3 separate regions of the Homo sapiens genome follow, and all the other regions are linked to region 3. The links come from fine-mapping of genetic effects on gene expression. A gene starts in region 3. Each other region holds a variant in brackets. All regions are shown on one strand. Distances are between the middles of the regions. Region 1 overlaps HECW2 (HECT, C2 and WW domain containing E3 ubiquitin protein ligase 2). Region 2 overlaps HECW2 (HECT, C2 and WW domain containing E3 ubiquitin protein ligase 2). Region 3 holds the start of STK17B (serine/threonine kinase 17b).

What was found. PIP is the estimated chance that this variant, and not a neighbour inherited with it, causes the effect. A credible set is the group of variants that fine-mapping cannot tell apart.
Region 1: its variant is the best candidate, but not a certain one, in a credible set for the expression of STK17B in tibial nerve (GTEx, PIP 0.89).
Region 2: its variant is the best candidate, but not a certain one, in a credible set for the expression of STK17B in whole blood (TOPMed, PIP 0.74).

Annotation. Positions count from the first base shown.
Region 1 is chr2:196,200,307-196,211,338 of GRCh38, reverse strand. HECW2 (HECT, C2 and WW domain containing E3 ubiquitin protein ligase 2) reads left to right here. Exons shown (of 29, transcript NM_001348768.2): 29 at 9,951-11,032. The coding sequence ends at 10,062. Among named protein-coding and RNA genes, the nearest start is that of STK17B, 34 kb to the right of the region's middle. The variant C/A (reference allele first, on the strand shown) is at 5,350.
Region 2 is chr2:196,240,981-196,252,012 of GRCh38, reverse strand. HECW2 (HECT, C2 and WW domain containing E3 ubiquitin protein ligase 2) reads left to right here. Exons shown (of 29, transcript NM_001348768.2): 20 at 9,809-9,929. Among named protein-coding and RNA genes, the nearest start is that of HECW2-AS1, 14 kb to the left of the region's middle. RefSeq lists an enhancer at 10,755-10,804. The variant T/C (reference allele first, on the strand shown) is at 5,406.
Region 3 is chr2:196,169,483-196,180,514 of GRCh38, reverse strand. STK17B (serine/threonine kinase 17b) reads left to right here and starts at 8,937. Exons shown (of 8, transcript NM_004226.4): 1 at 8,937-9,182. LOC101927454 (a long non-coding RNA gene) reads right to left here and starts at 8,976. Exons shown (of 2, transcript XR_923737.2): 1 at 8,884-8,976; 2 at 7,667-8,610. RefSeq lists an enhancer at 3,955-4,214 and silencers at 8,642-8,871, 9,392-9,611.

The DNA of each region.
Region 1 (11,032 bases), 31 kb before region 3:
TGAAAAGAGAGTACATTCACTTTGTGGCAATTGCTCTCAAACAGTCCAAAAAATGCGCTGCTAAGATGCCAGCCTGAAAACTGCAGAGCAGTCCTGTCTCCCACCATGGTGTGAGTTTCTGTGTTCATCCCCCAGGTTCTTGCCAAGTTGGGTGATGGGACGGAGGACCTGAGAGCTGCAATCGTCATGGGGGTGTGTTGGTTATTGCCAAAGGGAAAAGCGTTAATTTTTGAAAATGGCTGTGTCTGGAGATTATTATGAATGAAATGCTAACTGAAATTAAGAAATAAATTGTAAGAGTTAATTATGAAATAGATGTCTTATGGAGACAGTTAATCTAATGGAATAGAACTTTAAAAGATAAAATTATTTTTTAAAAACATAACAACTTTTTGTTTTTAAAATTCTGCTTTTTGGCAGAGTGCAGTGGCTCACACCTGAAATCCCAGCACTTTGGGAGTCCAAGGCAGGCAGATCACTTGAGGTCAGGAGTTTGAGACCACCCTGGCCAATATGGTGAAACCCCCATCTCTACTTAAAAAAAAAAAAATACAAAAATTAGCCAGGCATGGTGGTGTGCACCTGTAATCCCAGCTACTCGGGAGGCTGAGGCAGAAGAATCACTTGAACCCAGGAGGTGGAGGTTGCAGTGAGCCAAGATCATGCCACTGCACTCCAGCCTGGGTGACAGAGTGAGACTCCATCTCAAAAGAAAAAAAAATCTGCTTTTTATTCTAATTTATAAAAAGAAAATTTTACAAAAAATTGCTAAGAAATATATGTATATATTAAATATATATTAAAATACCTACATATGTATCAATCCAATGTCCACCCAATGTCCACTACTAGCTGGTCATGGTGGTGCATGCTTGGAGTCCCAGGTACTTGGGAGGCTAAGGCTTGAGCATGGGAGTTTGAGTCAAACCTGAGCAACATAGAGAGATACCATTTCTGAAGGAAAAAAAAGTCAATTACTAAGATAAGCTCTGTTAACATGTTAGAGTATGTGATTTCACTCATTTCTTCAGGTACACACAGGCACACAGACACACACATACACACACACACACATTTTAAAACAACATTCCGTTTATCACATGGAACATCTTTCCATGTCATTAAATATTGCTCTGTAATGTTATCAATAATTCAGTTTTCCCTCCTCCATTATAGGGAGCATTGTCTACTGTCAAAGTGAATTATCAGCCAGTATACCGGAAAATAACCAAGTCCTGAAATACAATGTCACTTTCCTCAATTAAAAGAAAAACCAGGCTGGGCACAGTGGCTCACGCCTGTAATCCCAGCACTTTGGGAGGCCAAGGTGGGCAGATCACGAGGTCAGGAGATGGAGACCATCCTGGCTAACATGGTGAAACCCCGTCTCTACTAAAAATACAAAAAGTTGGCCGGGCGTGGTGGTGGGCGCCTGTAGCCCCATCTACTCGGGAGGCAGAGGCAGGAGAATGGCGGGAGCCCGGGAGGCGGAGCTTGCAGTGAGCCGAGATCGCACCACTGCGCTCCAGCCTGGGCGACAGAGCCAGACTCCGTCTCAAAAAAAAAAAAAAAAGAAAGAAAGAAAGAAAAACCATCAGAACAAGAGATGAGTACTAGAAGGACCCTTTGGGGCCATCTCCTTTCTATATTTGCCCTGAGGTGTCCCTCGTTGGTCTTCCTAATTCCCTACCGCCTGCTGATGAGCTGATGTGGCTTTTCGTGTGGGAGAGAATTGACAGGAGATTCTCATACAGTGGTCTGCTCTGTAGTTGAACCTCAGGTCCAAGACTCTCTTCAACTCCTTTCCCCTCTGCCCTCTCACTCAGTTCTATATAACTGTATTTTAAATTTTCACTTTATTCTGCCATTGAATCTGCATGTACTAACAAAAACATGCCAGAGTTAACCCATCACATCACCATATTAAAGATTCTTAAATGTCATATACCTTTTGGATTGGTCTTTACTTTGGGAGGTGGGTAAATTTATCATAAAAACAGATTGTATTAAAAAAAGGGACTCTTCTGTAATTAATGTAAAACGTCAAGCTATTGAAAGAATTTGTGACTTTAATGGAATGAGATAATCATTCCACTTGCATTCCATCAGCATTGTTGCTGCTGACAACAGAGGACAGGATAGTCCAAGTCAAATCTACTAAAGGTCCTTGAGAGCTATTTCACAAGTCAGATTTTAAAGTGTCTATTTGTGAGTGACAGACATTGCAACAGTTAAAGAATGCTTACCCACTTTTCCTTGGCCTCAAGAGCAAAAACCAGTTTGGGCTCATTTCTTTCCACCAGCCTAGTCCATGACACCATCCCCCCTCACCTGGACTACTGCAGTAGACTGCTGGCTAAATCCCCTGCTTCTCCTGCATCCCACCATTCATTCATTCTGCACTCAACAACCACTGGGATCTGCAAACATCTCAAGGTCACCTCCCTCCCTTGCCTACACCCTCTGGTGGCTTAGAATAAAATCCAGACTCCTTCCCAAGGACTTCCTGTGGGGCCCTGGTCTGCCTCCTCCTGCAACCTCAACATGTACCCTCTCCCCCAACCCATGACACCTACCAGCCTCCTTCTGTGTATTCCTCAAATATGCCAAACTCAATTATGCTTCAAGGCTCAGGGAATTGCTGCCTATAACACTTATCTGCTGGTCCTTCATGCCTGGCTCTTTCTTGTCCCCAAGACTCGGGTTAGAGGTGATCTCCTGAGAAAGGCCCACCAGGCTTCTGTCCTTAGTGCACCTGTCACTCTTTCACCCCTTACTTCCTTCACTAGGCTTGACCCAATTCAGTCATCATGTTCAGTTATTGGTTTACTTGTTGATTATCTGTCTCCTCCTCTGGAGTATAATCCTGTGAGAACAAGTACCTTATCTGAATTAAACATGGCTTTGCTCCTAGCAGTGAGCCCAGTGCTTAGCACATGTACTCCATAAATATTGTTTTTAGTGAATTTGAAATCTTTAGGGATAACTTTGGACCACTCCAGACAAGAAATTCCAAAATCATAATCCAGACTTTCATATCTCTGTATCCATATCTGAAAAGTTGGGATAGAAATTAGCATTTATATTACAAAGTTGTTTTGAAGATTAAATGAGATAACATGCAAAGTGCTTAGAATAAGGCCTAAAACATCATTCAATAAATTTAGCCATTCTTACTATTCTTCCTAATATCTAGCCTTCAGGGCTGGCCGGATACTTTATAGTCTTTAGGTGTGTGAGAAATGTGCCATATTCACCCAGCGTGTTTGTATTTTGTTTGGACTTACAGGGGTTTCCATTCCTGGAACTGTCCTTACTGGACTTTGTTCTGTTTGGTTTAAATTCTTACATTTGAAAAGTATGTACCCTCTTTATCTCTCCCCAGAGGCATTCACAAGTGAAGAAGGTACCTGCTCAGAATGCATAGTTTGAAGAGTTTCTTCTGCTAGTTACCCCAGATACAGGAATTCCCCCCTATGGGAATATTCCACTTTGTATTTACAGATCCAAGTGCACCTTAACCAAAGTGACCTAATGAGACTTTGGAATAAGACATTAATTAGTGAATAGATTAATTCCCCTCACCCGTCTATAGATACTCCTCATGGCTTTACTAAGTGCCGAACCTTGTGGGAGATATACGTTGACCTTAAAACACAGGGAGAGAAGCAATGGATATTTACATGAACAGATAACCAACATCATTGGTCCCAAAATGGAACATGACCAATGAGTAGTTGGAATAGCAAGCACCATAGAATTTCTTTCCATGAATTCACCTTTACCGAACACCTGGTGAAGGTCAGGGCATTGTGCTCTGCTGCCATAAGTTACACACATATTTGTGCCCTACTCTTAATAGGAATTTCTGCTCTAAACCTCATGGCCTAAGAAGGTATTCATGAGGATATTAGATAAATTATGAATATTTTAAAAATTCTAACAAGTTTTACCATTAGTTGTGTTAATAAAGCTACCCAGGCTAACAAAACTATAACTGGATTCCTTTAATGGAATTCGATCACTCTATTTAATTGGTAACTTTGGATTTCTCATGCTGATTTCACGCCCTTGAATTCATCATCTGTCCCTCTACCCATTTCCTATATTCCCTGCCTTATTTAAAGATACCTCTGCCAACCCACTTTTCTTTCTTTCATCCATGAAATAACTGGAAAAGGTTTTTGCAAGAACACTCCTGGCTTCCTGATGTGTCCCTGCCTCCCCATCTGGCCTCAGGTCCAACCTTGCCTCCTGTCCCTTAGGCGCTTGCCCCTCTCAGGTTTCCTGATGATGCAATGTCATGTTCCATCTGCTGGGAACATCCTTCTCCTTGTTGTTGATTCAGAGAAAACCTGCACACCTACAAATCTTTCAAGCCTTGGCACAGATAGTGTCCTCTATGAACCTTCCTTGGCTCTGCTGAGCAAACTTGTAACTCATAGTATTATTAACTGTTTGTATGCAGGGCCACTAATAGCCCATCTTTGGGACTAATGAAACAAAGGTGTCTCCTAGCCTTTTGGAGAAATGCAGCCTGCAGCTAGGGCTCACAATTTGGCAAGCAGAGCCAAAGGAAGGCTGGATTTCAGTTCCTGCTTGCCCCAGAGCACAGGATACACAAACTTTAGAGGGTCTTTTTGCCTGTATATTTTGCTGCCACAGTGTAAACTCCTTGAGGACAGAAACCAGACTTTTCATCCTCATCTCTCAGAGGACAGCTGAATCCCTGGCATGGAGTATATGCTTAGTAAGTACTTATTCAGCGAGTGAAGGAATAAATGAAATATAATGCAAATTGGAAAATTAAGTACATTCACATACAGAGAGAGAAATTAATCAACAAACCAATCTATGGAAATGGAAATGTAACTGATACTTTTGGCTCACTGGATTTATCTAATTGACTTGTCTATCTGTAGGGAAAAAGGGAGGGTAAGCATGTGACCTCCTGATTAACATTTTTGAAGAATCCAGAAAGCACCAAGAGATCTATTAAGTCAGACCAGATGTCTGGAGAATTTTTAAATCTTCTTAATATTGATGCCAGCATGATTTCCCAAAGATGGGTTCAGACCTGCTTTCCTTGAGTGGTTCTGGCTAAATAGATTAAAATGAGGTAAACCCATTATAGCTTTAGTGTGACTGGCTTTGAAAGATTTGAAAAATGTTCTTTTATTGAGACTGAATAGCTGGATGCACTTTTGCTGCCAACATCAACACAGTCCAGGGCCCTCCTGTTATTTTCTGCTAAAGTTTTCTTAGGACATGGAATGGGGTGGGAGTGGGGGTGTGAAAAGCCTCCAAGGATTATGTGTTGCTTGCCATTTTTTTTGTTTTTTTCCTGGC[C/A]TTGGCTCATAGAGCAAGTTGATGGTAAATATTGGGCAATTTATTTAACCACACTATTCCTCAATTTCCTTATTAGCAATGCTGTCTTGTTTATAAGGAGTTTTGAAATTTCTGCAAGCACATAAAACACTGGTGCAAATAGCCAATGTAGGTATCATGTTGCTAATCCACTTGATGCCTCTCCAATAGTGGAGACCACCTGCATCAGACTCACTTGGCATATTTATTAAAATGCATATTCCCCCAGGCCCACCCCAAACCTTCTGAATTACAATCACAAGGGGTGCAACCAAAAATCTCCATTGTAAAACAAGCTCCTGGAGTGATTTTGATACACTCTAAAGTATCCTTTTGAGTATTTGCCTTCTTCTATTAAGCCTGAGATTGAGCTAGATGGTATGATCACCTAAAAATCCCCTGGTATTTTTCAGGGTTTTCTGGATTGACTCAATCTCAGCCATTTTCCCCAGAGCTACTGCATATTGTGATTGAATTATTCATTTAAAAAATATCTGAAGCTTTATTTTGCCAATCCTTGTCCTCAAAATGTGGATAATCTAGTAGGATGTTGAGGAATAATAGTTCGTAGTCAGAGGTAGGATAAAATTAATACTCAGGCTTCCAAAAGTAAAAGAATGAAGCCATGAGCATTAATCTCCCCGCTTTCAGTTTAATGTTGGACTTTCCCTAGGAGACCCAGAACTGAGGTCCTTTTCTTGATTTGGCCACTGACTCAGCTTTGACCTTGGGAAAACCATTTAATCTTTCCACACAGTTTCCCCCTCCACAATATATGCTTTCCCCATCATCGCGAAATATTTTCCAGAGGAGCTGTTTAGTTTATTAGAAGGAAAGTTGTGTTATGGTAACCATATATTATGCAACCAGATGTAATTTATGAAGCAGCAATAGCCTTAGATTATGGATTAGTAATGCTGATTATGTCTTACGACTGCAGAGGAACAAAAAAGGTTGTCTAGTCCTTCCCTTTGCCTTCCCTTTGTGTTGAGAACTGAAAAGAGTATTTAGGCTTGTGGATTTACTGGATAAGCTTCTAGAGTACCTGCAAAGATACTACAGAAATGGCAAAGAGACATTCAAAGTTCCTGTTTCTCTACTCAGAAACCTGGGAGAATGAAAGAACTGTTGCCAACCCCTAGCTTTGTTTCACCACCTGTCCTGGATAGATGATTCTACTGTATCACACTTAACATCACATTTGCCACCTTTTCTTGAACTGTTTCACTACCTTGAGACCTGTTACTGGTTCTACTGATGCAAAACAAATTACCACAAATTTAGCAGTGTAAAACAACACACATTTATGATCTCACTGTTTTCATGGAGCAGGCATCCAGGCACAGCTTAGCTGGGTCTTCTGCTCATGGTCTCACAAGGCTGAAATCAAGCTGTGGGTGGGGCTGCATTCTCATTTGGAGGACCAACTAGGGAAGAATCTGCTTCCAAGTTCCCTTGGGTTGTTGGCAGCATTCATTCCTTGCAGCTATAGAATTCATAGTAGCTTCCTTCTTCAAATTCAACAACAGTGAGAGTCTCTCTTGATTTTAATAAGAAATCCTAAGGCTTTAAAAGGTGAATGGACTTCATACCCATTACAATAGCTATTATAAAACAAACAAACAAACAAACAAAAAACAAGAAATAAGTGTTGGTGAGGATGTAGAGAAATTGGAACCCTTGTGCACTGTTGATGGAAATGTAAAATGTTGCAGCCACTATGAAAAATGCAATATGATGTTGCACTTCTGTGTATATCCCCCAAAAAATTGAAAAGGAGGACTTAAACAGATAATTGTACACTCATGTTCATAGGAGCATTATTTACAATAGCCAAACGGTAGGAAAAAAACTCCTGTTCATTAATGGATGAATGAATAAAGAAAATGTGGTATATACATACAATGGAACATTATTCAGCCTTAAAAAGGAAGGAAATTCTGACCCATGCTACAACATCAACCTTAAAATATGCTAAGTGAAATAAGCCAATCACAAAAGACAAATATTTTAAGATTCCACTTATATGAAGTACATAGGGTAGTGAAATTCATAGAGACACAAAGTAGAATGGTGGTTTCCAGGGGCTAGGGGGAGAGGAAATGGGAGTTACTATTTAATGGATACAGATTTCAGTTTTGCGAGATGCAGAAGTTCTGGAGATGGATAGTGATGATGGTTGCAAAATAACGTAGGTGTACTAATGCCATGGTACTGTGCACTTAAATATAGTTAAAATGGTAAATGTTATATTATGTATATTTTATCACAATAAAAATACTGAAAAGTTAATCGGGCAAGAGAGATGAACATATGGATCACAAAACAGGAAATGTAAAAAGCAAGAGGACATGGGGGAAAGATGCTCAACCTTATTGGTAACCAAAGAAATGAAAATTGTAAAATAGTATTGTGGTGTCATCTGTTAGTCTAATAGGATAATAAATGTTATTTGTCTGACACACACAGTTTGGCATAGAATTATATTCAAAACGTATTCTACTTTTCTGCTTCTTCCTCCCCTACCCCTGGAACAGAGATAAATCTTTATTTAATATTTTTATTCCAGTGTTTCACAGATGATAGATTATAAACCACTGCTAGGACTCTAGTGTAGTATACAAGTTGAATTTTTAAATAAGTAAAACCTTTTCTTGAGGCTCAATTTGCGTTCCAGTCTAAGGATATCAAATGCAATTCTGAAATGCTTATTGTATCAAAAAAGGGTTTGCCTGCAAAGATTCATTAGATGATTTCCACCAATATATCCCAGAGTTTACAGTACTAGGAGTGGGTGAGTCGGTACTATCTCTATACCCTAAAACTCATACAGTTGGAGTATCCCTAGTCAAAAAATTTTAAATCTAAAATGCTCCAAAATCCAAAACTTTTTGAGTGCCAACATGATGCCACAAGTAGAAAATTTCACAACTGACCTCATATGACAGGGTGCAGTCAAAAACGCGGTCAAAACTTTGTTTCATGAACCAAATTATGTAAATATGGTATAAAATTACCTTCAGTCTGTGTATACAAGGTGCATGTGAAACGTAAATGAATTTCATGTTTAGACTTGGGTCCCATTCCCCAAGATATCTCATTATATATATGCAAATATTCCAAATTCCAAAGAAATCTGAAATCCAAAGCACTTCTGGTGCCAAGCATTTTGGATAAGGAATACTCTATCTGTATTCTTACAATATAACAGATCCTGTTCACATTCCTGTTTTTAATAAGCCATGTGGCCACACACCTGCTTTATTATCCCTTTATTATCTCATCATTCTCATGGGTCATTACTATTTGTGGCAATTCACTGAAGGCAATTAGAGTCAAATCTTGTTGATAGTAATGAAATGTAGCTAACAATACCTCTATTATTAATTGGTCAAACACTATGAGCCAGTCATTCTATTAAGCATGTTTCTGTTATTTCACTTAATCCTCACATCCTTCTCAGACAAGTTATATAACCACCCTTTTAAAGGTGAGAAATACGGGCTCAGAGTTTTAATAACTCACTCCAAATCACACACTTGTTGATAGAGCTAGAATCCAAACCCAAATATGTCCAACTGCAAATCTCTGGTCTTCCCACTACATTACACTGCATCCAGGAATATTAATTATATTTATTTCATAAGGAAAAGGGATTTATCAGAGTAAAAGTATAGACATGTGACTTTGTAGAAATAGCTTGTTAATAATCATAGTTCCTAAAATTTCTTATTCAGGAGTATTTTTTTTAAGTCAAAGTTATGTAGGTCCCCCAAACAAGCTGTTGTACATTCAGAATAGAATGTTTCCTATTTCATGTCAAAAGTGCAGATTTGCTTCCTGATAAGATGTACTATTTGGAGACTGTCTATTTTTTATTGTGATTCAGATGCAAATAACAGGAAAACATATTTTTTTCCTATCTTGGCAAAAGAAGTATTTCTAAAAAAGAATACTTAATGTAATGATTTAAATTGCTTATTTTGTTATTGTGAATTGGGAGAAAGCAAATTTTAGCACAGGATTCAAAGAAGTAACAATGGCCTACTGACTTAGAAAAGTCCAGCCAGGGAATTTCCCAAGACTCTAAGCCATGAGGCAGGCCCTCAGAGACACTGGCTCCTCTTCCCTGTCCAAGAAAATGAAAAAATGCATAACTACAGAGTATCGAAGAGACACCCAGGCATATGCCAACTCAAAATGAACTACTTTGCAAGGCCTTATGTCCGTGTATTAAAAAAAAAATCTAGCATCAAAAGAGAAACAAAAACCAAACTTGTCTTTGTAATCCTTAGACCACTCAATAAATGGTCATTTATATGTAATATAGCTTTTAAATGGTGGTGAAATGTAAATAAAATATTTTTTTAAATATCCTCTTTTCCTTAGAGAAATTCAGTTCTGAATTTTTAAGGTCAAAATGTTTTCAAAGATTTTTCAAAAGGAGTGTGAAAATTGGCAACAAATAAATTTGAATGTGAAAGACAGTCATACACACACAGACACACACACACACACACACCACACACATTTTCATTTCACTCGGCCTGTTCTAAACTATGTGCTGTTTCTTGTGTTTTCAGAGCGCATACATGTTTTAACCGTCTGGATCTGCCTCCCTACCCATCCTTTTCCATGCTTTATGAAAAACTGTTGACAGCAGTTGAAGAAACCAGTACTTTTGGACTTGAGTGACCTGGAAGCTGAATGCCCATCTCTGTGGACAGGCAGGTTCAGAAGCTGCCTTCTAGAAGAATGATTGAACATTGGAAGTTTCAAGAGGATGCTTCCTTTAGGATAAAGCTATGTGCTGTTGTTTTCCAGGAACAAGTGCTCTGTCACATTTGGGGACTGGAGATGAGTCCTCTTGGAAGGATTTGGGTGAGCTTGATGCCCAGGGAACAACCCAACCGTCTTTCAATCAACAGTTCTTGACTGCCAAACTTTTTCCATTTGTTATGTTCCAAGACAAAGATGAACCCATACATGATCAGCTCCACGGTAATTTTTAGGGACTCAGGAGAATCTTGAAACTTACCCTTGAACGTGGTTCAAGCCAAACTGGCAGCATTTGGCCCAATCTCCAAATTAGAGCAAGTTAAATAATATAATAAAAGTAAATATATTTCCTGAAAGTACATTCATTTAAGCCCTAAGTTATAACAGAATATTCATTTCTTGCTTATGAGTGCCTGCATGGTGTGCACCATAGGTTTCCGCTTTCATGGGACATGAGTGAAAATGAAACCAAGTCAATATGAGGTACCTTTACAGATTTGCAATAAGATGGTCTGTGACAATGTATATGCAAGTGGTATGTGTGTAATTATGGCTAAAGACAAACCATTATTCAGTGAATTACTAATGACAGATTTTATGCTTTATAATGCATGAAAACAATTTTAAAATAACTAGCAATTAATCACAGCATATCAGGAAAAAGTACACAGTGAGTTCTGTTTATTTTTTGTAGGTTCATTATGTTTATGTTCTTTAAGATGTATATAAGAACCTACCTATCATGCTGTATGTATCACTCATTCCATTTTCATGTTCCATGCATACTCGGGCATCATGCTAATATGTATCCTTTTAAGCACTCTCAAGGAAACAAAAGGGCCTTTTATTTTTATAAAGGTAAAAAAAATTCCCCAAATATTTTGCA
Region 2 (11,032 bases), 71 kb before region 3:
TGGCCAGGCTGGTCTCAAACTCCTAACTTCAAATGATCTGCCTGCCTCGGCCTCCCAAAGTGCTGGTATTACAGGTGTGAGTTGCCACGCCCAGCCAGCCCTATTCTATTGTCCATGTGAAGCCACTGAAAATGTATAAGCAGAGGAATACCAATAATATCCTGCTTTTCAAAGATCAGTCTGGTGGCAATTGGGAGGATAAATTAGAAAATGAGAGACTAGAGACAGTTTCTCAGAGAGGCCATTGCATTAGCCAGAGTAACATGATGAAAGACTGGACTAGGCAGTGGAGATGGGGACCAGGGAACAAATTGAAGGGATATGTAGGATGCAGAGACATCAGGACTTTGAGTAGAGGTAGGGAAGAGTCAAGGAAGATTCAAAGGCCCTCACTACCTAGGCTACCAGGCAGATGGTAGCACCCTCTGCCAAGAATGGGAAATGGTTAGACTCAAATTGGAAGATTGAGTGAGTTTGGTGTTGGACAAGTTTTATTGAGAAATCTTTGGGCCATCAATGGGAGATTCCCAAAGACAGCTGGAAATGGCAGCCATGGCGCACAGGAGAGGTTGAAAGCAAGGAGTTCAGTGTACTGGTGGCAACTGGAACCTAGAGTATAGACTAAAGCAACTGGGGAGAAAGTCATTGAAAAGGAGAGGAAATAGAGGATGATGTCATGAGAAACCTCAATATTTAAGGGATGAGCTGAGACAGAGAAGCAAGTGAAAGAAAGAGAGCCAACAGATTTTGAATAGAGTTAGGAAAGTCTTTTCAGGGGAGCCGGGTTTCACAGAGGAGTGGTCAATAGAGCCACATGCTCAAAGGGCTCAGGAAGTCCCAGCTACTCACGGGGGCTGAGGTGGGAGGGTTACTTGGGCTCAGAAGGTCAAGCCTGCAGGGAGCCATGATCATGCCACTGCACTCCAGCCTGGGCAACAGAGTGAGACCCTGTCTCAAAAGGGGGATAGGGCATCAAGAAGGATGAGATCTGAAAAGAGGCCTCATTTAGATTTGAAAATCATGACATTATCAATGGTCTTTGCCAAAGCAGGTTCTGTGAAGTAATAGGTTATAAACCGGATCATGATTGGTGACAGAATGATACAGGATCTGAAGCAGAAGTCAAATGCTCTTTTCACGAAATCTGGAGGTAAAAAGAAAGCAAAATAGAACAGTAGTTAGGAGAAGAGAGAGGGAAGGAATTTTAGGATGGGAAGTTGAGCATACATGTGCAGAGGACACAGGACGTGAGTGGAAGGAAAGTGGTTTGTGGAATAAGGCAGGCTCATGGGCAGCACGACACTGAAGGAAGAAACACAGGCCAACTTTGGAACAAAATAGGGACACCTATTTTGATGACACAGGCTGAAAGAAGTGTATGACACTACAGGTAAGTTTAAAGGTTTAGGGGAAAACTTCATGAAATTCCCAACTGGGAATTTCATTCTTTTAGCAACTGTCTGACTTTAGGCAGGGTACCTCCTTCCCTGAGCCTGAATCTCTTTTTCTATAAAATAGAGATAACAATAATTACCTCACCTCTCACGATTATTTTTGGAGAACACTTTGCTTGGTGCTTGGAACATAACAAGTAGCCAATAAAGGTTAATGTGTCGCTTTTTCTTTCTTTCTTTCTGGAAATTTGATTCTGAGAAGTAGTTTGTTCACATTTGAACCATTAACAACTGGAACATACGAACCCTGATTTGCAGAGCTGTCTGCTTAGATATTTAATCATGCAGAGTGGACTTTATCTTAGTAAGAGCCTATGCTGGGGTTTAAAGTGGACCATCCCTTTACCTGTGTTTTATGGTTAAAGACATGAAGCCATGTGGATTGTTGCTCGTGCCAGTCAAGGCTGTCCTTTTCCAGGCCTTTTGTGTGGCCTCTCCTCCCTGAGGAAAAGGTAAATTGCCAAATGCTGCCCCTTCCGTGCTCTTTAAAGGCATGCACTTGAAGACTGCACACATTCTTCAAGACTGTATGAGCACTCTAAATGTGGCTGAGTTCACTTCCTCATTTAGCATCGCAAATGCACATGAGTAATCATTGGTGACAATAAAATCCATTCTAGAAACTTACATTTAGAGTTAAACATTTTCCAAAGACCTGTGTAACCCAAATATATCTAAATTGCTAGCAGTGTTTGTGGTGGTTTTAATTTTCAGGAAGAATCATCTCCATATTTCTGGCCTACTCTGTTTCAGTGGGCTTTGTTTGATCTTGAAACTGGGTTGTACAGCCTGATATCAATGGAAGTCACTATAACAAATTCCACATGATACCAGGGCAGGACTACCTAACCTCATTTCCCCTCTGGAGGAATCTTCTGTTCCTTTGAATAAAATAGCTTCTCCTTCTACCAGGATTCCTGAAGGTTTTGTGAAAGCAACATTTCAAACAGATTTTTTTAAGTGGTCTGATCCTCCTTGTGACTATAATTTCACCCCTTTTAGTGGTGTGAGAATAATATCTTGAAAATTATGACAGTAATAAATTTTAATGATCTTCATTGAGAATTCCTAGGAACCTGGTAAACTTTCCCCCTTTTCCTCATTCCAAGCACGTTGACATGTATTTTCAAGTGCAGAAGAGAGAGGGGCTTTGGAAACTTTGACTCACTGCTTTTTGCAGCTGTTAGAGTGCTCACCAAAATTTGTCAAAATTTTGGAATGTGAAGGTTTGTTTTTCTAGGACCATTATAATGCCAATCCCAACCTCAGTGATGCCAGAAGGAAAAGATCTTTCCAAACACCATGTGGCTTATTATGCCAAATATGGGACCCAGAAGTTTATTTAAGCTGCACATTTCTAGGAAATTAAATGCAATAACACCTAATTTATCTGATATTATTGGAGATGTGCTCTCTTATGTGGATTTTCCAGGTAACCAAAGCTATGATTTTAACTGTATGAGAATTTGTTTGACCCCCTATTTGCTGAAACTCTTTCATAAATATATTATATTTCTCTTTACTTTCCTATACACTGCACATTGAGGATATTTCATGGTTTGGGGGGATCATTGTGCCTATGAATCATGATGCAGAGCTCTTGTTACTTGACTAGAGCTGGACTCCCTGGAAACTAGCACCAGCAGAAAGTCACCTTCAACAGAAGTAAAACACTCAGAGAGCACAGAAGAGCCCTGTGGGTCTTTACTAAAGATTGTCTTGAGGGGATGGGTTGTGAGAGGGAATTATTTCTCCCACCACATTGTGTGCCCTTAATGATCTTCGTTTTCTTTCTCCCACCACAAAGTCTTAGCATTTTACCAGCTGTTTATGTCATCTTCTCTTTTCACAAACAGTTCCTCTTCTCTGCTCATTCTCTCTCTCCTTTTCTTCCTTCCTCCCTCTCTATTCCTCTCTGTCTCTCTCTGTGTGTGTGTGTGTGTGTGTGTGTGTGTGTGTGTCTGTCTGTCTCTCTCTCTCTCATCTGTCCCTCTCCCTTTCCCCACCTTTCCTACAGTCCCTGAAGTAGCTTTAGAGTTGTTTTTAGAAAAGGTGTTTGATCCCTTCCCTTGACTCAGCCCTACAAAGATGATCTAGGAACCAAATTGCACAAATGAAGGATGCTCCCTGGGTGGGTAGGGATGGGGAAGTTGTGATCCCAGAGACCAAAAGAAAGCCACAGACACTGTCTCTCTCATAGTATAGAGACTTAACTTTTTGTGTTGTTAGTCTCCCTTGTCCTCACCCATAGAGCTATCAGAGGGTGCCTGCTATTGGCAGACCCTTTACATTTCCCTTTAATAAATCACTTCCCTGCCAAGATCTCTGTCAAGGTTTGAGAAGTCAGAGCATTAAGTTATTTTCAATAAATGGTATGTACATGAACATCAGCAAGCTCCAAGAAATGACTCGAGGGCCTTTTACTACTCAGAGAATAAAGCAAAAATGCCAGGTTTTCAGTGCTTGTGCTTTGTGCCAGGGATTTGGACGTGTTTTTTGTTAAGTTCCAGCGTTGAGCTATGTTCCAGAAGATGGAGCCTTCCAGAAATTATTGTAGTGCTTGATGTTTTGTTTTCATTCACTCACAGGGCATTTGTTTTAAATGTCATAGGGATTTTTTGAAAGTGAACCAGGAAAGAGATGAGCGTCTGAGCTGTCCCAGGACAGAGGCATGGAGCCATGCTGGATCAGGCTAAGATCCAGCCCCTGTCCAATACGGAGAACCAGTGCTAGTCATCAGAACAGTCCAGGTTCTGGGTCACACACCCAGAATCAAAAAAGACTGAGACTGCCCGGGAGTTGGATGCCAAGCTATTTCTAGTGTCTTCTGAAATATTTTGTCAGATAGAATTCTTTAGTTTGTATATGATTATGCAATTTTGTAACAGTATATGAAAATAGGGTAACACAATATAGAAGTTCTTTAGACCTGCCTAGCAATGACAAAGCAAAAACTCCCTAGTGTCTGTTACTGAAATTTTTTCCTGCACAGTATTAGCAAAATGCTGACTATCCATGAAGTCAGCCCTTCATTTGATGTAACATTGATCTTTTGTACCTGATTTTCTTTAAGACTGTAAAGACCATAAAATTCCTCTGTCTACAAAGTATTATGACCTAGAACTTCACTTGTAGTTCTCACACAATTTTATTAGCGCAATCTTCCAAGAACATTTTGTATTTCCAAAGTGGAAGTAACATCATTCCTGCTCTGGAATTTCTTGGCAATTATACCTCACTTGTATTAAGAATTTGACAAAGGCCAACAGCATAATTTACTGTAATTTTATTTATTTATTTATTTATTTTGAGACAGAGCCTCACTCTGTTGCCAGGCTGGAGTGCAGTGGTGCGATGTCGGCTCGCTGCAACCTCCGCCTCCTGGGTTCAAGTGATTCTCCTGCCTCAGCCCCCCAAGTAGCTGGGACTACAAGCACACCCAGCTAATTTTTGTGTTTTTAGTAGAGACGGGGTTTCACCATGTTGGCCAGGATGGTCTCGATCTCCTGACCTCATGATCCACCGACCTCAGCCTCCCAAAGTGATGGGATTACAGGCGTGAGCCACCGTACCCAGCCAATTTACTATAATTTTAAAATGAAATAATGTGTAAATGACTTCTTTCATGATGGAACTATGAGCAAAAGAATTTTTGCATTTAACAATTGCTGTCTCAGAGTTTTTATAATTAAATCCCTTTACCTAGAGTATAAACAGAATCAGAGCTAATTTTTATTGTGTCTGTATTGATATTGATGGAATGCATTATGGCATTTCCCACGTCCTTTTAAGCATCTCAAATTATATAGGAGTAGTTAGTGTCTGTGCTGTTTTTTAAAGTAATCAGCTCTTAAAAAAACATGTTTCTTGGCAGGGCACAGTGGCTCATGCCTGTAATCCCACCACTTTGGGAGGCTGAGGGGGGTGGATCACAAGGTCAGGAGATCGAGA[T/C]CATCCTGGCTAACATGGTGAAACCCCGTCTCTACTAAAAAAATACAAAAAAATAATTAGCCGGGCGTGGTGGCAGACGCCTGTAGTCCAAGCTACTCAGGAGGCTGAGGCAGGAGAATGGCATGAACCCGGGAGGTGGAGCTTGCAGTGCCCGAGATCGTGCCACTGCACTCCAGCCTGGGCGACAGAGTGAGACTCCGTCTAAAGAAAAAAAAAAAGTTTCTTTTGTGTCTTAAAAGATTTTCGTTCAGTTCCTTGTTCTTCATTTTTCTCTCTCTTATCAATGATTTTGCTCTTGAAAGTTGATTCATTACAGCTGCGTTCTGCCCTGTCTGGGTTTTCTAGTCTGCAGTTTCTCAGACTGGAGCACTGACACTGATTGTGCCACCCTTGAGTGGACTTGAACTGCACGGTCCTATCCCTCATTCATCTAGGAGAGCAGCCTTGTGTTCATGGAGATAATGTTCCTTCGTGTTGCAAATTATGCCTTTCGGTACACAGGAAACATTTGCCCTGTGTTAGTCCCTGGATGCTGCCCATGTGTTTCACTGGTGATGTTTGACCTTCTTATAAGGGAATAGTGGTTCTCAGCCATAGCTACACATTACACATTGGAATCATCTGGACAGTTGTATTTAACACTCATGCCTGGGTCCCACCCCACATTCTGGGTCTTTACACATTTTGTTGTAATGCATCTTGGGTGTGGCCTGAACATTGGAATTTTTAAAAGCTTCCTAAGTGATTCTAATGTGCAGTCAAGATTGAGAACCCCTGCCTAGGAGTCTCTTCTGCTTCCCAGATCTTTAAAGTCAAGTTTATTCACTTGCTTTATGACATAACTCAGCTCTTTGCCCAGCTATACAAACAGATCTCCAGACAGATTATTGGTCAATAGCCAGTTTTGTACAAATTCATTAGTAAAATCTCAATTCATTTCCCTGTCTTTAGTATTCACCTCTATGCAGATAACAACAGCTAACACTTACGTGGGATCTCTTATGCAACAGTCACTGCATAAAGTGCCATAAACACACTAACTCAGCTCATCCACACGTGTGGCCCTGAGCTCTCACCCCAATTCCAGCCCTGTATTTTTCAGTCTCTAGGGCATTTTGTTAGCTGTCATATCCAAGTCAATATGTATAAAGTTTCACATGCCCTTGTCCACCTGCATCACTTCCCACACTCTTCATAGCATCAGGTAGATAGACTTGGCTCAAATCCCAAATCTACTGTCACTGGAATATGACTTGGACAGGAAACTGCACCTTCATTTTCTTTAGTTGCAAAGTGGTGTGTGATGGTCCTAGTAATACCCGCTTCGTAGACTTGTGAGGATTTCTCAAGATCCCCTGTGTAACGTGCATCATCTGTAATGTACAGCAGGCGCTTAACAAGTAAGACCTGTTGTTATTGTTTAAATACACTTTATATTATCATCATGCTTCCCATTCTTCTTTCTTGCTTATCTATTCTTTTCCCAGTGCATATTTCACATTGTAGATGTTTCTCTGAGTCACTCACTCCAGTCTAGTCCTTATCCCCTCAGGCTTCAATTACTGCAACAACTCCTAACTGGGGCTCTTTCCTCTTGCCCACCCTTAATTTACTCAACACACTCTGAAAATAATTTCTTAAATAAAACACCATTTGTATGTTATTCTTCTGCTCAAGAACCTATAAAGGCACTGTTCACTGCATCATGCCCAAACTCCTCTGCTAGGTTTTAAAAATTCTTGTCATAATTTGGCTCCAACCCTTCTGATCAATTTCATTTCCCATTTACTCCCAGCACTCCTCCTCCACTCTAGGCTAGCTTGGTTCTCTTGGTGTCTTCTGAACACACATGCAGTGCTCATGCCAGCTGTTGCTGCTGTGTTCCACTTTAGGATATAAATTCTCCTTCTTTTGCAAGGTGTGGTTCCAATTAAGCTTCCTCCCTAAGGCCTTTTCCACTTTGATCTCTACTTATACTCATTTCTTTTTTATAACATTACTATTACTTTTGTGTAACACTGATCTTAACAAATGCTTGCGGGGCTTGGGGGGCAGGCAGCCATGTCATTGAGTGGCTGCCGCAAAGTGGTGAGCTCATGCCTCGTCTAACAGAGTAGCTGCAGCTGCCCGCTGGATCCCCAAGGAAATGCAAGCCAGTCATTGCAAGATTTCCCAAATAATTTTCAAGAGAAAAATCTGGAATTTTTAAATTTGAAATTTAATTTGTAAATGTTGGCAATTAATTTAAAATATTCAAAAAAGATTATGGGGCAAGCAACTGGGATCTATAGGACTAGGTATAGCCCCAGGGGTATAGCTTTGTTTCCTCTGCTTTCTAGTCTGTATACCTAGTTCAGGACTTAATTATTCTCTAATTGTTTGATGTTTTATTTCTGTTTCCCCAACCCACTCCAGCAACCCCACCTTACTCATTTTGGACATCCATTGGTGAACCTAACATAGTATTCCCAATGAATAACAACTATTTAGTTCACTCATTTGTTAGAGACATTTTTAATGAACTTACATGGTATGTAATGAACAAGACTTCCCAGCTTTTGTTTTCTGGTTTCTTTCATTGGTTGGGAAATATTTAGTGGAAATATCCAGTGTTTTTGTCATGGCTCTGTGTCTGATTTCCATATTCATCATCAGTTTTCTATCCCAACCTGCTGCTTGTGTTACCCAGTGACACAAAACCAGATTTTTCTATGGAAAGAGGAACAATTGGCTGGGCATGGTGGCTCACGCCTGTAATCCCAGCACTTTGGAAGGCCGAGGTGGGCGGATCACCTGAGGTCAGGAGTTCGAGACCAGCCTGACCAACATGGAGAAACCACGTCCCTGCTAAAAATACAAAATTAGCTGGGCGTGGAGGTGCAAGACTGTAGTCCCAGCTACTCGGGAGGCTGAGGCAGGAGAATCGCTTGAACTCAGGAGACAGAGGTTGGGTTAGCCGAGATCACACCATTGCACTCCAGCCTGGGCAACAAGAGCAAAACTCCGTGTCAAAAAAAAGGAAAGAGAAACAATGTTACTTTTACATATTATTAGTGATAATTACCATTGAATAACGTATAAAATATGCTTATATAATCTAGATATTCTCAGTACTTGGCACATGTTAAGAATGCAATAAATGGTCTGGCGCAGTGGCTCACACCAGTAATCCCAGCACTTTGGGAGGCCAAGGCAGGTGGATTACCTGAGGTCGGGAGTTCAAGACCAGCCTGACCAACATGGAGAAACCATGACCCTACTAAAAATACAAAATTAGTCGGGCGTGGTGGCACATGCCTGCAATCCCAGCTACTCAGTAGGCTGAGGCAGGACAATCACTTGAACCCGGGAGATGGAGGTTGCGGTGAGCTGAGATTGTGCCATTGCACTCCAGCCTGGGCAACAAGAGCGAAACTCCGTCTCAAAAAAAAAAAAAGAATCCAATAAATATTAATATTATTTATTCTTTGTGCAAGTGCGCACTTTGTGCAAGTGAGACAGGTGCCTTTTGCAATTATGTGTTATATTAAGATTTTACCCTGCAATATGAGATTTATGTAATTATGTGTCTAAAATCATTCTTGGTGATAGTGCATATCTAAAAGAAGTTTTGTAGGCCAGGTGCGGTGGCTCACACCTGTAATCCCAGCAATTTGGGAGGCTGAGGTGGGTGGATCACCTGAGGTCAGGAGTTCCAGACCAGCCTGGCCAACATGGCAAAACCCTGTCTCTACTAAAAATACAAAAATTAGCTGGGCATGGTGGCAGGCACCTGTAATCTCAGCTATTTGGGAGGCTGAAACAGGAGAATCACTTGAACCCAGGAGGCGGAGGGTGCAGTGAGCCAAGATTGCACCACTGCACTCCAGCCTGCTGGGTGACAGAGTAAGACTCCGTCTCAAAAAAAAAAAAAAAAAAAAAAAAAGTTTCATGAGGAGTTTTTTGGTGAGGAATTTAGAGTGAATGATTAAAACCTCACTCTTGGTGCCACTTACTTATATACCATGTACTTTCCATTGCAACTTCCTGTCTAATTGCCATGATATCATTTCAGCAGCAAGCAAAGACATTTCATCCTAACAGTTACTACTAGACATGAGTAACTCTGTTTGACTCATATTAGTTTCGACTGAAAAGGGGAACATACTTGAGAAACACATGGGCACCATTGTAACTATTCAAACAGAATTTTTATTCTCAACCAAAATGCCACAAAGAGGACGTCACTTAAGACCTTGGTTGAGGTTTGTTATATCCTTCAACTTGCAGAAATCAAAAATGCAGAAGTTAAGACAGTTGCCTCATTTGACTTGTTGATTGTGATAGCTTTTGTCCATGGTGATGTGATGAACATAAGGACGAGGCACAAATCCAGATTGTCCTCTCTTTGTGGTTTGCTGCAGGTACCCAGCGTGCCAATGCCCGGGCTCCAGCCCCTTACAAGCGGGATTTCGAAGCCAAACTGAGGAACTTTTACAGGAAGTTAGAGACTAAAGGATATGGACAAGGCCCAGGGAAGTTAAAGTAAGTCAAAGTGACACAAACCACATAATGTATAGATGGTGAAAGGAGAGGGCACAGTTGGGCCTCTAGGAAATTGATTGTGATTTGGGATGACTAGCCTTCATTTTAGTCGGCATAATTATTTTGGAATTTGTAAATTATAGGATCATCTAAAACATAGTCCTGGAATGAAACATGATTAAGCTTAACATTTTAAAACAAATAGTGAAGACACTGCCACTTTTCATGCAAAAATAAAGGCAAAATAAAAGGCTGATTTATTTTTTTCCTCTGAAAAGTATGTCTTTGTTGGTGCATAGTATATTCATTAGCTATAAAGCTATCCCAATGTCCTCCACTGCAAGTTTCTGTCTCCTGAACTGACCTGAGTGTAGGAATAGTGCTCAGCTCTGTTCAGTTCTGTGAAACAAACTTCACAGCAGAACATGTCATGAATGTTGTTTCGGCCTTTCTTCATCCATCTCCTCCTTTCAAATGGGGAAACTGAAACATCATCATGTTGTTTGGCCTAGAATTGTTTCCATTCCCTACTTACCCTTCTTTCTCTCCTCCCTGCCTTCACCCCTGTCCCACGTCCCCACTGGAGATCAGTCTGCCACTGAGAGAGGACAGAGGAGGGACGGTCTCCACTGGAGCACCCCTGTGACCCTGGGTGCCTGAGAGACGGTCCAGAGACCAGACCAACAGCAGCCCCATGGCTCACTGCCCCACCTGCAGGAAGGCTTGCTTGATTAAAATCCACCTTCATTGCCCTAAAAAATCATCTGCCTGCCCAAACACCATACTTCTCTGAGCTTTACTTTTCTCACACTTAACTTACAAAGGTCTAGGATGATCCAGCTGTCATGCATTCAGCCTCCCTATCATCTCTCTGCCCATTACCATTTACATTAAGAGCAAATTGATATCTATGGAAGGATGACTTTAATTGGCATCATCACAAGTAGATTAACCTGCCACACTCATCATTCATTTGTATCTGTCCCTTAGGGACTGTCAAGATTCACTTAATTTAACAATTAACAATTGGAAACTCCTCTGCTTTGGAGGATATTGAGAATTTTTTTTTTCCTCTTTGTTCTCACAGTCATCTTGCTGGGCAC
Region 3 (11,032 bases):
ATACAGGGTGGCCATAGAGTAACAAATGTCCCAGTCTTGAAAGACTTGAAATCGGTCACTATGATGAGAATAGTGGTTCTCAAGCTGTTTGGTTCTCAAACTTCTACACTCAAATATTACTCAGGACCTCAAAGAGTTTTGGTTGATGCAGGTTATATCTACGTAGATAAGTAATGGTAAATATGGTAATCTAGTAAGTATAGTCCATAGGACATGGTTAGTATGCTCAATACTTACCATATTAGAAATTAAAGGAGAGGCAGGCAACATGCTAGATGAAAGATTCACTTTGTGATTAAAATCAGATGATATACATAATATTGAAACACAATTTTCTGGATCTCTTTCTGGATTCCTATTACATATACTTTTATCTGACTTGGAAATTTTGATTGGAGGTTGATATTGGATTGAACCTGCATCAAATTACTGGTACAATGGTGTTTTTAATAGACTGCAAAAATAATAGAAGGGCTATATTTTGATTATTTTATTAGTTCTACATTCTCTAAATTTGAATATTTAAAGCAATGGCAGACTCATTCATTTTTCTAAACAAAGCCTTTTATTTTAGAGCAGTTTTAGATTCATACCCAACCAATTTCCCTTTTTATTATAGGATCTTACATTAGCAAGGGTGCATTTGTCACAACTGATAAACCAATATTAATACATTATTATTAAATAAAGATTTCCTTAGTTTTTGCCTAGCATCATTTTTCTATTCCAGGTTCCCACCCAGCATACCACACTACACTTAGTCGTCACATCTCCTCAGGTCTCTCTTGGCTGTAATTATTTCTCAGACTTCCCTTGTTTTGGATGGCCTTGACAGTTTTGAGGAGTATAGGTCAGGTATTTTATAGAATGTTCCTCAACTGGGATTTGCCTAATGATTTTCTGATGGTTGCACTGGGATTGTGGGTTTTTGGGAGGAAGACTACACAGGCAAAGTATCATACTTATCATGTTATATTAAGGATACATAACATCATGACTTATGACTTATGACTACTGACCTTAACCTTGATCATCTGGCTTGAGGTAGGTTTCGTCAGGTTTCTCCACCCTAAAGGTGCTTTCTCCCCATCTCTTCCTATATTTCAGTCTTTGGAAGAAAGTCACTATGGGCAGCCCACACTTAAGGAGTGGGGAGTTATGCTCCACCGACTTGAGGGTGGAGTATCTGCATAAATTGCTCATATTTCTTCTGTATGGAAGATTTGTCTATTCTTTCAACCATTTATTTATGTCAGTATGAATTCATAGACATTTATTTTATACTTTGGGTTATAGTCTACTACTGCTTTATTTCTTGTGTTGCTCAAATTGTCCTAGCTTTGGCCATTGTGAGCTCTTGTAGTTGGCTCCTGGTTCCCTTCTCTTTGAATGCCCCCATAATTGCATGGTGGTGTTCGCTTGCACTTCCTTCTTTCTGGACTACAAGATACTTCAGGCCCATCTGTATATTTCCATCCTCAGTCACAGAAGCAGCCATTTCTCCAAGGAGCTTTGATTCCTTTTCTTGGAGAATGATATTAGAGACTAAGACCTCAGTGCTAAGCATGCTGTTGTTTCTGAGGTGTCATTACTTTTTAGGCACCCTCAGCTAACAGAGCAAGGAGCTATACATGTGTATGTCAACCCATGTATATACACATAACCTATAAATATTTCTATATGTAAACATCTGTATCTATATTAAGCTAAACAGGAGTTTCGACCAGATGTCTCTAACTCTGAGCCCTCTCCCTTTGCATTTTTTATATACTTGAAAAGTTATTTTAACAATAAAGCAATTTTGGAATGGTAGATATGAGAAGAAACAAAAGGCTGAAAAGAACAAGGACTCCAGGAACTAGATGAATAAAACACCCAAGAAGGTGTGCTCTTTTGTTAGTAGCTAGTTATTAAATATCCACACAGTAAAAGTCTGTGTAGGCTGAGTGTGGTGGCTCACGCCTGTAATCCTGACACTTTGGGAGGCTGGGGGAAGGGGGGTTGCCTGAGCTCAGGAGTTTGAGATCAGCCTGGGCAAATGGCGAAACCCTGTCACTACTAAAAAAAAAAAAAAAAAACAAAAACTGGGTGTGGAATGCACGCCTGTAGTCCCAGCTACTCAGGAGGCTGAGGCACGAGAATCACTTGAGCCTGGGGGGCAGGGGTTGCAGTGAGCTGAGATTGTGCCACTGCACTCCAGCCTCGTTGACAGAGTGAGAACCTGTCTCAAAAAAAAAAAAAAAAAGTCTGTGTAGTAGAGGATGGACTTGAATGACTGCGAGCAAGTATATAACTTCCACGTCCCTTAGTTTTCTGGTTTTTGTTTTTTTTTTTTGAGATAGAGTCTCACTCTGTTGCCCAGGCTGGAGTGCAGTGGTGTGATCTCGGCTCACTGCAAGCTCTGCCTCCCCGGTTCACGCCATTCTCCTGGCTCAGCCTCCCGAGTAGCTGGGACTACAGAAGCCACCACCACGCCCAGCTAATTTTTTTTTTTTTTTGTAATTTTAGTAGAGATGGGGTTTCACCATGTTAGCCAGAATGGTCTCAATCTCCTGACCTCATGATCTACCTGCCTTGGCCTCCCAAAGTGCTGGGATTACAGGTGTGAGCCACCGTGCCTGGCTAGTTTTCTTATCTTTAAAGGAGGAAAATATAGCACTGTAACTCATAGGAGGATGTGAGCATTAGATGAATTAACATAAGCAACACATTTAGAACAGTGCCAGTTTCATTATTTATGAACTGTTGTTGCCATGTACACTATGAGGCAAGTATATTATCTCCATTTTACAGATGAAAAATAGAGGCACAGAGATTTTCTAACCTGGTCAAGATCTCACAGCTGGTAAATTACAGAACCATTCTCTCATAATCTGTGACCTTTTAAAGGTTTCTGAACAGCTCTGAACTTACTGATTCTTCGGTAAAAGTGAAGCCATGAAATGCTGCTCTATAAATCTAAAGGAAAGGCCAACTACTAAAAAGATTCAAGAATCTTTGAATATTCTCAATGTCAGGAATGCTGTGATAATCAGGAATAGTACCATTTCCCACATTACTAATGCTTTTATGCCACAAAATGGCTCAACTTTCAGAGTAGATTGGCCTTCTCAATGTTCATGCTATCACCTTACACCAGTTGACACAAAGATCACTCCTAATGAGGGAGTTGCTGGGGATTAAAAGTTGGCTCTGCCTTATCTATATCTGCTACTGCCTGCTGTAAGAAGACTCACTACGTGAAGGGTTTCTGGAAGGGTACCTGCCATGTACCCTGGAGAATGTGATAGCAGGTTGTCATTCATGGTATATGCAGTTGGCAGAGGAAGTTTCTTAGCAAAGTGAAAAAGGAAGAGATTTATTAGGGAGAGCTAGTAGGCGTTATCTACTCAAATCAAATAGACAGCACCCTATATTTATACCCTGTATTTATTTCTTTGCACCACTTGATATCTACTTCCTTTAAACACTAGTGACTAATTTCTTTATCTCACACGGCCCCCTGGACTCCACCATTTGTTGACCCTTAGAGCTTCATTCCGAACTTGGGTGTCTCCACCAGATAGATACTGAAAGGAAAAGCAGTCACCTCCCTCTCCCCTTTCCTTTCCAATGACATTTTTCTCCCAATGATCCCTACTAGCATCAACCATAAGATGTGAGGAAAATCGAAAGTATCTTATAAAGCCATTTGACAAATATTTATATAGAACCCACAATGTCTTGAGCATCTTGCTAGTCACAGGGCGCAGTAGTGCACATGGGGAGCTGGCAAAGCACTGGTAAATAATAATAGCTTGTAGGAACAGAACCAAGGGTTTATTCTTGTTAGGCACTGTTCTTAGTATGCATTATCCCATTTCAATCTCATGGAGGTAGCTATTATTATTATCCCCATTTCACAGATGAGAAAACTGAGGATCGCCCAAAATCACACAACAAGGAATGGGCAGAACTGGGACTTGAAGGCAGGGCTGCCTGATGTCACACACTTAACCACACATATATCTTCTCTTTCTCTCTCACAGCTTCTCACGAGGTAGAACTTTAGAGCCTGGTGTGTTTGTGGCTGGAGCATAGCAGCTCTTCTACAACTTTACTGTAGTTTCTACTGAATATTTTGGTTTGCAAATATAAAGGATTCTCTGAAGCACAACCTTAAATAACGTGTGGTAGACACCTGGGAGAGGAAAACTGCAGACAGAAAAATGTGGCCGGATGCTCTGTGGGCGGGCGGCAGCGATGTTCGGCCAGGTGGCTCCAAGGAGAGGAAGCAGTGATGCATTGAGGTAAGAGAGCTGACAGATGAAACCACATGGACCCTAAGACAGAGTGGAAGGAGGGTGCCTTAAATATTGTAGGGTGTGCTCTTATCAGGTTATGAGAATGCAGTTGGGATACAGGTTTGCTTTCTCTTGCCTGTATCATCGGAGTGATGATTCAGATAAATTTAAAAATTACTTTATTCTGAAGTATGTCTGATGTGAAGAGGCTTAAATAATATCTTAGGATTAAGAGTCAGGAGACCTAAATTATTGTTCAGATATGTACCACCGAATTTAGGTGTGTGATCTTTTGCAAGTCCCTCAACTTCTCTCACTGTAGGTTTCTTCCCTTCTAAAACAAGGGAGTTGGGTTACTGAACTGCAAGAATTTTTCTAGCTCCAGACTGCTCTGATTGTCTCTAGCACTGGAAATTTAGACACAATTAGAAGGCACGTTTCTAGCCCTTCAGACCTACACTGCCTAACTTAGTAGCCACATGTGGCCATGAAACACTTGGGATGTGGCTAACATGACAAAATTTTCTATTTTATTTCATTGTCATTAAATTTATATTAAGAAACTGATACTGTATTTAGTTATTGAAAAACTTTATTTATTTTTGAGACAGAGTCTCGCTTTGTCGCCCAAGCTGGAGTGCAGTGGTACACAATCTCGGCTAACTGCAACCTCTGCCTCCTGCGTTCAAGTGATTCTCCTGCCTCAACCTACTGAGTTGCTGGGATCACAGGAACCTGCCACCATGCCTGGCTAATTTTTGTATTTTTAGTAGAGACGGGGTTTCACCATGTTGGCCAGGCTGGTCTTGAACTCCTGATCTCAAATCATCTGCCCGCCTTGGCCTCCCAAAGTGCTAGGATTACAGATATGAGCCACCACACCTGGCGTGAAAAACTTTAGTTTGTTCAAAACAACTTAGGAATGTGAATCTGCTTTTTGCAACAGTAAATTTTGTGAAATCTAAATACAGATCAAGTGTTTCCGATGAAAATTTGGCATCTGAATTGGGACATGCTGTAAGTATAAAATACTAGATTTAAGACAATATTAAAAAAGGAAGTAAAATGTCTCAATAATTTTTGTTGATTACATGTTGAAATGACAATGTTTTAGAAATATTGGGTTAAATAAAATAAATTGTTAAAATTAATTTTATCTGTGTTTACTTTTTAAAATATGACTAGTAGAACATTTGCCAATGTGCGTGGCATTTCTTTTGGACAGCTTTTACAGGACAGGTTATACTCTATAAACTGCAGTGAGTGGTTGGATTGGCATATTGGCCCTAGTTGATCATGGATGTTTTGGAGAGGAAAGCTGTGTCACCCTTTAAGGAAGACACTTGTACCAGTCTGAGTTATTACTCTCATCAGACAAAACTAGCCCCAATTAGCTTTGCTAATAGTGTTTCAAGAGAGTCAGGGGATGTGAGGTCTCTTAGAGTCTCTCTGGTTCTCAGTGCTTTCAAAATTGCAATGTGCTGTAGGCACCATGAGTAAATGCACTGCGACATCTCCATCTGAGTACACTCACTATTCCTACCTCCAGAGAGGGGATCTGTTTGGAGGAGCCTGTCTCCATTCAGTGAGCACCCCTGTTGGGTGGGGGGTTGAGCCACGCCCCTTCAGAGGCTGTTGGCCTTGCCTGCGTCTGGCTACCTTTAGCCTAGCCACAGGTTTCTGGTATATTCAGTTCTAGACAGGTAGTAGAGCTTGTTTTGCCTTTTCCACATGAATTCTTCAGAAGGAGGGTGTGTCAGTGGCAAGAGTTTTGAGTTTGAGGCCTTCTGCTCTGTGCAAAACCCTCCTTTTCTGCATCTACAGGGAGTAAACATGGAATCGGTGAGAATCACTTTCCTTGATCATTATGTGGTCAGTATGCGGTGACTGACTTGATGTGACTGGGGAAGGTCCCTTCCCTGGACAGAATATGGTGAGTGTCGTGCCATTACCGGAGAGGATCACCTTCCCTGGCCACATGTGGTAAGCAGTGACTGGGAACGATCATCGCTCCCAGTCAGTGTGTGATTACTAACCTGGAGTGATCCAGGAGGACCACTGTATTTGTTTGCTTGGACTGCCATAACAAATACCACAGAGCGGACAGCTTAAACAACAGACAGTTCTGGAGGCTAGAGGCTGTTGATCAAGATATCAGCAGGTCTTGTTTCTTCTGAAACCTCTCTGCTTGCTTTGCAAATGGCCACCTTCTTGTTATGTCCTCACAGGGTGGTCCCTTAGTCAGTGTTGTATGTGTCCTAATTTCTTCTTATCAGGACACCAGTCATCTTGGATCAGGGGCCACTCATATTATCTCATTTTACCTTAATTACCTCTTTAAAGGCCCTATCTCCACATACGGTCATACTCTGAGTTCCTGAGGGTTAGAATTTCAACGTATGAACTGGAAAAGAACACAACTGAGCCCATAACAACCGCCATCCCTGGTCGGAATGTGTCATTCAAGGATGGTCAACTTAATGAACTGTGTGGTCAGAAGCAATGACCACAGAATGACCATCAGGTCACCTGGAGATTTCCTACTCAAGGGAATGAGAGCAGGAACATATATCTTTGACACGGTGATGAATGAGTTTAGGTAAATGAGGTGGATGGAGGAATGTATTGACTTCTGAATTTTCCTGCAAGGCCACAGATGTACTGCCTCCTCCTCAGCACCAGGAATTCCTTGTTACTTGAACCACAGTGCCTGAGACCAAGTAAGTGTAGTTGAATGTCCTTGGGATAGTGTGGTAAGTCCTAGTTAACAAATCTGACATCAGGCACAAGGGTTAACAATCTATTTAGGGTCATAAAAGAAACACAAACTATCAGCCCTGCACCAAAGAACATAAGGCAGAGGTGATCAGGCTGGGAACAGAAAGTAGGAATCAGCAGAGTTCTGATTCCTGAAGAGGGTAACCTTCTTAAAGTCAGAAACTGATGAACAGGTATGGATGAGGAGGATGGTGATAAGCTGGAGCTAAGGCAGAAGCAGGAAAATGCAAGACATGACAATATCCCTAGGAGGCTGGCTGGTTACAGCAGAGGTATTGTGACCAAGAGGACTGGCTTACAGTGGTGCCAGAGAGAGAAAAGTCTGTGTCTAGGTGTGAAGTGATCTGGGACTGGATTAGTGACGGGGAGTATGGGGTGAGTGTGAGAAGATTGCTAAAAGCTGGCAATTGATGAAATGTTGAAATTAAGGAGGTCCAAAGTTAAACACACAACCCCAAAACCACCATAATGATGTAATCCTGTGACCCCCAAGAGGTTACTAGTTTTGGTACTGGTGCTGAGACCTCTGGAATGCAACACCTATGCTCATGAAAGAAAAGATGGGAACAGTCTCATTGCTTACGGATTCTTATACCCCAGAAAAGTTAATTCCAGTGTGTGGCATTTTATTTTCATCCTAACTTTAGGCTTCTCTAGTCAGCCCAATTGTTAGCAACAAGAAATTAGATAGATGGAAGCAATATTCTCCATTTGACAAGGTTTAGGGGCAAGACATTATTAACCTGGGAGGAGGAGTTAACCTAAGTAACAACAAACAGACTTCATAAAAGGGCTGTGATGCATTCTATACCTTTATCTTGGGGAAAATGCAGTAGGAAAGGGAAACAGCTAGCTTCACAGGAATTTGCTTGGCTTACTGGGATAGAACAAGAAAACCTGTCCTTTATATGCTAACTGAACATTAAGTCTTTTGAAAGCAAGAGGACGACTCCACTCCCAGTATCCTTTCCCACGGAAGGGTTTTCTGCAATTATCGTAAATGTCCTCTGAAAGCAATCCTAGATTACATAACTAATCCCATATATGTATGAGTATGTGTGTATCCTATACATATAAACTAGGATTATATATCTATGTAAAACATTTGTGTCTTGCACAGAACTTTGAAAATTTCCACTGTCTTCAAAGGATAACAGATCTTGAGTAGGTTGCTGAGGGCTTTCATCTTTTTCCTTAGCACTATAAATGCAAAATCGGCTATTCAGCCTATTGGGACCCTCCCTACACTGCCTTCAGTCAGTGCCTCAGAAGGGACACCATTCGCGACAGCGGACGTTAGCAGTGGGGTCTAGGTTCCATAAATCCCCAACTGATGTTGACACTCCGAGGAACCTCTGCCAAGTTGTAGCAAACTGGGTTCTCCACTTACAGGGTACGTTCCGGTCCTAAGGAAGACTCTCAAGAAGAGTCAGAAAATAGGTCTTTGGTAGGCACTGAAGTTTGGTAACTAGTCGCAGGCAGCTGGGACGAATTTTGCGGCTTCCTTCTCCCCGGTCTCCGGATATTCACACCTCTCGAACTGACCTCTCTGAAGGTGGGAAGGAGTACACAGAGCAGTAGTTCCAGCCCCGCGCGCCCCCTCTGCAGCGCCGCCCCCTCCGCCCCTCCCTCGCGGCAGCCCGAGTGCGCCCCACCTGCGCCGCCACGCCGCCGCGCCTCCCCGCCCCGCCTCGGGCCAGCCAGGCGCCGCACCCTCTCACCGCCGGGCCCCGCCCCGCACACGCGCCCCCGGCCGGTGCCCCGCCCCTCCCGTCACGTGACAGACCCACCCTCCGCACCCGTTCCGATTGGCTCTCCCGACCTAGGGGGAGGGATCTGGCGAACGGCGATGCCCCAGACGCGGCTGCAGTTTTCAAACCGCGACTGCAAGCTTCGGTAGTCCTCTCCGCTGCTGTCGCCAGGAGTCACTTCACGAGAAGCCAGGTCACAACCGTCGGCCCTTGTCTGGAAAAGTAAAAGTGGATCCTGCCACGTTCGGAGCTCCCTGGCGCCTCGCCCGGCTGGAGCTAGAGAACTCGTCCTGTGGCGGCCCCCGGCGTGGGGCGGGACAGCGGCCCCCTGGAGGGGGCAGTCCCGGGAGAACCTGCGGCGGCCGGAGCGGTTAGTGTCCTGCGGGATTGGCGGGTTGGCTCGGGGCTGCGATGGAACCAGCCGCCTCGGTACAGAGACCTCATACGTGAGGAAGGAGGACCCGAGGAGGGTTTAGGCGGTACGGTCCGGCTGAGAGGGGCTTGGACTCCGCCGCCCCTGAGGTGGCTGATTGCTGCTGGCGCCTCTCCGCTTTGCGGCTGGAGTCCGGGTTCCCTGGGGCTCCGCGCGGGGGGCGGCCGGCGGTCCTCCCACCACCCTCCTCAGCCCGGGGCGCGTGTCTGTGTCTGTGCGTGTCCGTGTGTCCCCGTGCGCCCTCCACCCGGCCGGCCCCGGCTCTCCCCAGGTCGCGCCAGGCAGGGCCCCCTTCGCGGCGGGCCCGCGCGGGTCCCTTCCACAGCAAGGCCACGCGGTCCCCCTAGCCTCTCCCGAGTCCCAGCTGCGGCGTGGGCGCGTTCCCATCGGGACTCGTGGACGCGTCCTGCTCCCAGCTGCCTTTCGTCTAGAGAAAGTTCGTGTTCATCTTGTGGGACGTTTTCAGTTACTGCTTGGGAACAGTGTTTTAAAACCAGCGAGAGATCAAGACGGGCTACAGCTGTTTCCGTGATTTTCAGCGATCTGATTTTTGCTTTGATGCCTTGTGACCCACTTAGTGTGCACGACTCATCCTCAAACTATACCACTACTGGATGCCAACGATTTTTGACATTTACCCAGGCTCTTTGTTTTATTGTAGGGAAAAGCGTTTCATTTGAATTTCCTCCGAGGGAGAAGTAGAGACAAAGTTGAAAGAGGCTTTATAGCAGCTGGTAGCTGGCATTAGTTTCTGTCTGGACTAGAGGCACTCTGACATCAATTTGGAAATTGGAATTAAGAAAATACGTTTTTAAAATCGTAATACTTATCAGATTTCACTAATATTTAAACACATGAGGACTGTGTATCACATTCACCGATTGTTTTGTCGACGTAATGTTTACATCTGTGGTGCTAATGATAAGCAGAACCTTGCCAGGGACGTTTGACGTGGTGTGGCCACTTTACGTTTTCAAGTCTATGAGAATGTCTGCGCGGAGACAGCATAGCTCTGTAGAAATGAGTGGCAGCGTATGTAACCTGGCATTTTGAACCCAGGAGCACAATTTTATTAAAGGAAAATAAACCTACTTTCTCATTGATAACACTGTTTTTTAGTTTTATGGTGAACTGTTCGGAAGTAATTTTCAACAAGTGCTTATTTTATAAATATTAGACCGTGTACCCCTAGGATTGTGTATTTTTTAAGAAAACTGGTCCATAGAAGCGGTGCAAAAGTTTTAAACTCATCTGCCTCGGATCCTCCTCCTCTGAGCAGATGCTCAATTAAACTTTTTCTAGTATCTTAATAATTGGAGGTATTAATAGATGTTTTATTTTTGAGATACATATTGTACATTTTAGATCTTTTTTTTTTTCTAAAGTAGGGATCCAAAATTGAGGTGAAATATATTTGCTTACATGGCAAGACTTTTTAAAAGTAGAATTTCTGTAATTGAAGACCATCCTTTTTTGTGTGTGAATAGAATGGTTGCGGTTTCTCTTGGGATCATTGATTAGTGAATTACGATTTGGTTAAGATAGAATGCGTTTTTAGGAAGTTGGAGGTTTGACTAATCGCTGTGTTAGCATATGAGTAACAAATTTGAAGAAGATACAAGCATTTTTATGGCTGACGTTTCTAATCAGATAATTTTATTTTTAAGCTTGCTCTGTTTTACTTTTGTTAAGTGAACATTTTAACATGTTTTAAAGCTCTTTGATAATTATAAGGGAGAATTTCCTTATGAAAATATTTTTGCTTTAATTTTAGAGACACAAGAAGT